Linked DNA regions of Homo sapiens. The protein of the gene in region 1 interacts with the protein of each later gene in a pairwise test. Each region holds a gene or a part of one and is shown on either strand. Other genes may lie near its edges.

Region 1 (3,600 bases):
ACAGTGTTGTTAATTTGTAAATTAAGAAGCTGGCTCCCCGGCTGTCTAGTAACTTAGGGATTAGCAAATGCAAAAGTATAGACTTTTATGGTAGTTTCTTATCCTTCCCTTTCCCAGATTTCTGTTCTTTGGTTGGTTACAAAGCCTCTTATCTCTTTTTGATTCAGTAAAGTGATGGGTAATAATGCGACACTGGAACAAATCCATCTCTTGTTGGAAATGGAAGCTGGGTTGGGACTTGTGCTGTGTCACCCTCAAGTATGAAGTGTAAACTCTTTCTTGGGCCACCAAAGTAACTAAACAAGAAATGCAACATTCTCCCATGAATACATTAGAGTTAATACTGTGGCCACATTTGGAAAATTAGCATAGCTCGTAAAAGCCAAATGCAGAAAATTAATTGTTAAGTATTCTATCACCACAGCTCTATCCTCCTCCGCCCACCCACCCTTGAGGAAGACAAGCCCAAAGTTAGTTGATGCTATGGAATCACAAGGATGTCCCAGTCCGTGATTTGCTGTAATTGAATCCATTTTAAATGTGGAGTCTGGATGCTGTTGGCATACCTTTATTTTGCTTGTTTTTCCCCCTGACAAACAAATCATTTACACATTTGCCCGAAGCCATAGAATGGGTAGAGGGGATGACTAAGATGTCATCACGTGCTCTCAATTTGGAGGCAGCATGATTTCCCCTGACATTTACATTTATGGGCTAGCTAATTTTTCCCTTCGTCTTAGTAAAGTTTATATTACAGAAGCGCCCAGCCAAGAACCTTATCCCACATCCAGATCTGTAAAATGATGTTCAGATTTTATAATCTGTGGACTGGATGCAATGACAGCTTGTGACTGTTTATTGCGTGGGACTGCCCCCAAATTCAAAGATGCTATTAATTTACCACAGACCTTATCTGCACGATTATCCTTCATAAATATGCTGACGCAATCCACTTTTTCTGGTTCAGAGAGGAGACCAAGGGAAACAGCTAACCCGGTTGCTAAAACCTTTTTCATTTTCCTTCCCATATGTGATTGTCTCCATGTCCAAGGGAGGCTGGGCTAATCATGAACCTGGTCTCCCATTTTTAAAGAGAAGATAAATTATGCTCAGAAGAGATAGCGGTTCATTTCTCACCGACCACTTGATTCCCTTGTCTTACATTAAATGTTCTATTTCTGTTATCTCTAATGCTGTTTGTTTTCCATATAGAAGGTTCAGTTACACCATTACATTTCCAAAACTTTTCTTAAAAAACTCATTTTTAAAAAACGAAGCAACTTACCCATTTATATATGGTCCCCCTCCCCCCAAGAAACACACATAGTTTTGACAAAGGTACCTTTTTCAAAGATGAAACAAAGTATGTCTTTCCATACATAGATATGTGTGTGTGTGTGTGTGTGTGTGTGTGTATATGTATGTATATATAGATTTTTTTAAAGCTAAGTGCTTTCAGTTGAGAGGGGAGGCCCGAAAGGAAAAAACCTAGAGAGATGACGGGGGAGATGGGTTTTTTTTAGTATTATTTTAATGTAACTTTCTTTTGCTAATCCGCTCCTCTCTCTGTTCTCTAGGACATATGAGCCCTACCACCTGCACCCTGAGGAAACACAAGACCAATCGGAAGCCGCGCACGCCCTTTACCACATCCCAGCTCCTCGCCCTGGAGCGCAAGTTCCGTCAGAAACAGTACCTCTCCATTGCAGAGCGTGCAGAGTTCTCCAGCTCTCTGAACCTCACAGAGACCCAGGTCAAAATCTGGTTCCAGAACCGAAGGGCCAAGGCGAAAAGACTGCAGGAGGCAGAACTGGAAAAGCTGAAAATGGCTGCAAAACCTATGCTGCCCTCCAGCTTCAGTCTCCCTTTCCCCATCAGCTCGCCCCTGCAGGCAGCGTCCATATATGGAGCATCCTACCCGTTCCATAGACCTGTGCTTCCCATCCCGCCTGTGGGACTCTATGCCACGCCAGTGGGATATGGCATGTACCACCTGTCCTAAGGAAGACCAGATCAATAGACTCCATGATGGATGCTTGTTTCAAAGGGTTTCCTCTCCCTCTCCACGAAGGCAGTACCAGCCAGTACTCCTGCTCTGCTAACCCTGCGTGCACCACCCTAAGCGGCTAGGCTGACAGGGCCACACGACATAGCTGAAATTTGTTCTGTAGGCGGAGGCACCAAGCCCTGTTTTCTTGGTGTAATCTTCCAGATGCCCCCTTTTCCTTTCACAAAGATTGGCTCTGATGGTTTTTATGTATAAATATATATATATAATAAAATATAATACATTTTTATACAGCAGACGTAAAAATTCAAATTATTTTAAAAGGCAAAATTTATATACATATGTGCTTTTTTTCTATATCTCACCTTCCCAAAAGACACTGTGTAAGTCCATTTGTTGTATTTTCTTAAAGAGGGAGACAAATTATTTGCAAAATGTGCTAAAGTCAATGATTTTTACGGGATTATTGACTTCTGCTTATGGAAAACAAAGAAACAGACACAATGCACACAGAAAATATTAGATATGGAGAGATTATTCAAAGTGAAGGGGACACATCATATTTCTGCATTTTACTTGCATTAAAAGAAACCTCTTTATATACTACAGTTGTTCCTATCTCTCCCCCGCCCCCCACCGCCCCACCACACACATATTTTTAAAGTTTTTCCTTTTTTAAGAATATTTTTGTAAGACCAATACCTGGGATGAGAAGAATCCTGAGACTGCCTGGAGGTGAGGTAGAAAATTAGAAATACTTCCTAATTCTTCTCAAGGCTGTTGGTAACTTTATTTCAGATAATTGGAGAGTAAAATGTTAAAACCTGTTGAGAGGAATTGATGGTTTCTGAGAAATACTAGGTACATTCATCCTCACAGATTGCAAAGGTGATTTGGGTGGGGGTTTAGTAATTTTCTGCTTAAAAAATGAGTATCTTGTAACCATTACCTATATGCTAAATATTCTTGAACAATTAGTAGATCCAGAAAGAAAAAAAAATATGCTTTCTCTGTGTGTGTACCTGTTGTATGTCCTAAACTTATTAGAAAATTTTATATACTTTTTTACATGTTGGGGGGCAGAAGGTAAAGCCATGTTTTGACTTGGTGAAAATGGGATTGTCAAACAGCCCATTAAGTTCCCTGGTATTTCACCTTCCTGTCCATCTGTCCCCTCCCTCCGGTATACCTTTATCCCTTTGAAAGGGTGCTTGTACAATTTGATATATTTTATTGAAGAGTTATCTCTTATTCTGAATTAAATTAAGCATTTGTTTTATTGCAGTAAAGTTTGTCCAAACTCACAATTATTTTAAGAGGTGTTCTCTGTTCTTAGCTGGGCTTAGCTCGAAAGTGCTACCCACATGAGGGGGAAGCTGGTCTTTTTTAATATTTTAATGTAAGTCAACCAAGAGTTGTGGCCAGATTCAGCCATGTTGGGGTGATTGGTGGTGGTGGGGAGTGAACTGAAACTACTGAAATACTTTGAAATGTTTCCTCTGGCAGCTTGTTACTTATGGAAAAGAGGTGGAATTGCTGCGAGGAGTTTTTCAGAAAAAGTACAGTGAAAGATAAGCTTTAAATAAGTGGTG
Region 2 (2,574 bases), on another chromosome or scaffold:
CCACCCAACCAACCAACCAACCAACCAACCAACCAGCAAACACCCTTAAATGAAACTATTACATATAGAACTATCAAGGTAGAAAAACATATTATGGTGGAAGAGACAAGCAAAAATGGCCATTGAAAGGAAAGGAGACTTCTTGTTTTTAACATTCACTAAAAAAGTTTAAGGTAGAACTGAGAGGCTAATGTTAAACAATTCAGAAATATCCATTATTCAAAATGAGATACCAGCGAGGTGAAAATTATTCATAGTTCTTAGTAATTTCATGATCTGAAATTTATAAATCTTCTATACAAACGAAAGGATAAAGCACAATTCTAAAGCATAGAAACCCCCCATCCCCCACCCAAGGATAGTGTCCAGCCAGGGAAAACAACAATATTAAAGGTGCTTTAGACTGTTGGGTTTTCAATTGTGTTGAATCAATTACATATAAGAACAGTATCTTTTGACAGTATGGTGAAGCTAGATCTGTCTGAGTGAAATGCATTATATCAAGTCCTGACTGTCTTTCTGGGAATGTCCACAGCTAAAAATTAAACCTTTAGTTCTTAAAGTCAACTTCAATAAGAGGGATTATTTATATTAAAAACAAAATTAAATTTCCATACTTTTGTTCTTTTCATAATAAAACTAATTACACCCTCATAACAATAATTGTGAAAAGAAACACAGTATAATAAGTAAAGAACACATTTGCTGTTTTTATTGGTGCCTTGCATGGCAGTAATACTGAAAAAGGAGAATGCAAAAAAATAAAATAAAATAAACAAAAAACAAAAACGAAAAACAGGTTGGTGGCAACCCACATCTTTTTTTTAAGAGCACATAAACTCCTGTTTTATTTTTATTGTGGCATGAATGATAACATAAAACCAAAAACATGAAAATATACAACTTATATTACACTATGTGTTATGAACAAAATATAAATCTATAACTCTATGTTATATTTACATAATTACTTATTATTTTATTAAATTTCAAGTGAGATGGTAGGTTGCACATACTTTGTTTTAAGCTCCAGGCATTTGATTGTCTCTTTTCTATTTTTTTTCCATTTTTACTTGTAAAATCCAAAATATTAGAAGGACTAAGAGCTTTAGAGCCAGTGGAGCTATATAAATACTGTTTTAGTGAACCAGTGACGGAAACACTGGGGAGGACAGGAATCAATCAATCAGTAGGAAACTCAACACATCGTCTTCAACCTGGGAAGTTGATAGTTATAGGATACTTTAAAATTAAATACTGTAAAAGCCTGGCTAAACCAACAGCTATGCCCTACAAGACAAAGGGATACCTGAACCACTTTAAGTGGCCTTCATAGTTTTCCTTGCAGACCCCGTAAGTTTTATTTTATTATTAATTTGATAGACAAATACCTTATAAACCTGTTTGTAAATATACAGTTGTTTATTACAATTCAACAATTTACCCATTAGAATGAGTGAAAGTGTAATTATTTTTTATGTTTTAAATGTGATATAAGAGGTTTCTTCTGGGAACAGTCACAGCTTCTGGATTAAGAAAATATCTGAAGTTGGACCAAAAAATGGTTAATTTTCTTTAAGTGAATTAAGGTAAAATTCTACTCCGGAAATCAAATCTATAAAATAGCTTCACCACAGAAAACTTTTTTATATTTGTTCTTTATAAGAGGATTTGGTTCTAACGATGATTATGTTCTTTGGGAGGGATTTTATACATGGTTAACTCTTAACTGCAGATGCCAAATGAACTTCACAAATGGACTTCACTAATTTAGGTATAAATGTGCTGAAGAATAGTTTTATATTTTATCCAATTGTGGTAAGTTAATCACTAACTTATTATTAGTAACTATAAATGAGTAACTTTATTTTCTCCGGTAATGTTCTCTTAGATTCATATGAAAACAGGACTATTTTTAGAGAAACGGACTACAACAACTATAAAAACCAGAATTCTGGCAAGATTATTTCTCAGTGTTGGGGCAAGTGTGTGTGTGTGTGTGTGTGCGCGCGCGCGCGCGCGCATGTGAGAGAGAGAGAGAAAGGGAAAGAGATAAAGTGTGAACAGATAGGTAAGAAAGCAGACAGGAAGGAGACTGTTTATGTTTTAGTTTGATCTTTTGATCTTACTCTCATTTTCTTTATCTTTTTTGGTCATTATGGGGCACAGAAAAAGAATACAGGGTTTTAGGATCCTTTACCAAAATTATAAATCAACCAATGCCAAAAAGGCAATGTAGTAACACAGTAAGTTGCTATTCATAGCACCTTTTATCAAGTGACTTCAAAGCACTTTCAACATTAATATAACTATTTTTGCTTTTGTTTTCTTTTGGGGAAAACTAGGGCAAAGAAAATTTGATGTCCAGTGAATTAACCGTCAGAACAAGAGAACAGAATGCAGCGGTATGAACTTGCTTTTTGTTTCGGTTCATGCACAGTTTAGTCTCGGACATAAACCTAACTAAAATCAAATTTTGAATTTCAGCAGTTAAAAGTCACCATTAACAATTTTGTTTTCCCCTTCAAATAAAACAAAATATAACAAAAAAAAGACCAAACACCAAAGTGTTGT

What was found. The genes of interacting proteins can lie anywhere in the genome.
Region 2: the proteins of MSX2 (region 1) and SOX5 interact in binary tests that used the Homo sapiens proteins (3 or more experiments, as listed by UniProt).

What each region holds. Positions count from the first base shown.
Region 1 is NC_000005.10:174,727,582-174,731,181, forward strand, and holds the end of MSX2 (homeobox protein MSX-2), read left to right. Parts: intron 1-1,577; coding exon 1,578-2,002; 3' UTR 2,003-3,315; downstream 3,316-3,600. UniProt on the Homo sapiens protein: Acts as a transcriptional regulator in bone development. Represses the ALPL promoter activity and antagonizes the stimulatory effect of DLX5 on ALPL expression during osteoblast differentiation. Probable morphogenetic role.
Region 2 is NC_000012.12:23,528,814-23,531,387, forward strand, and holds the end of SOX5 (transcription factor SOX-5), read right to left. Parts: 3' UTR 691-2,574; downstream 1-690.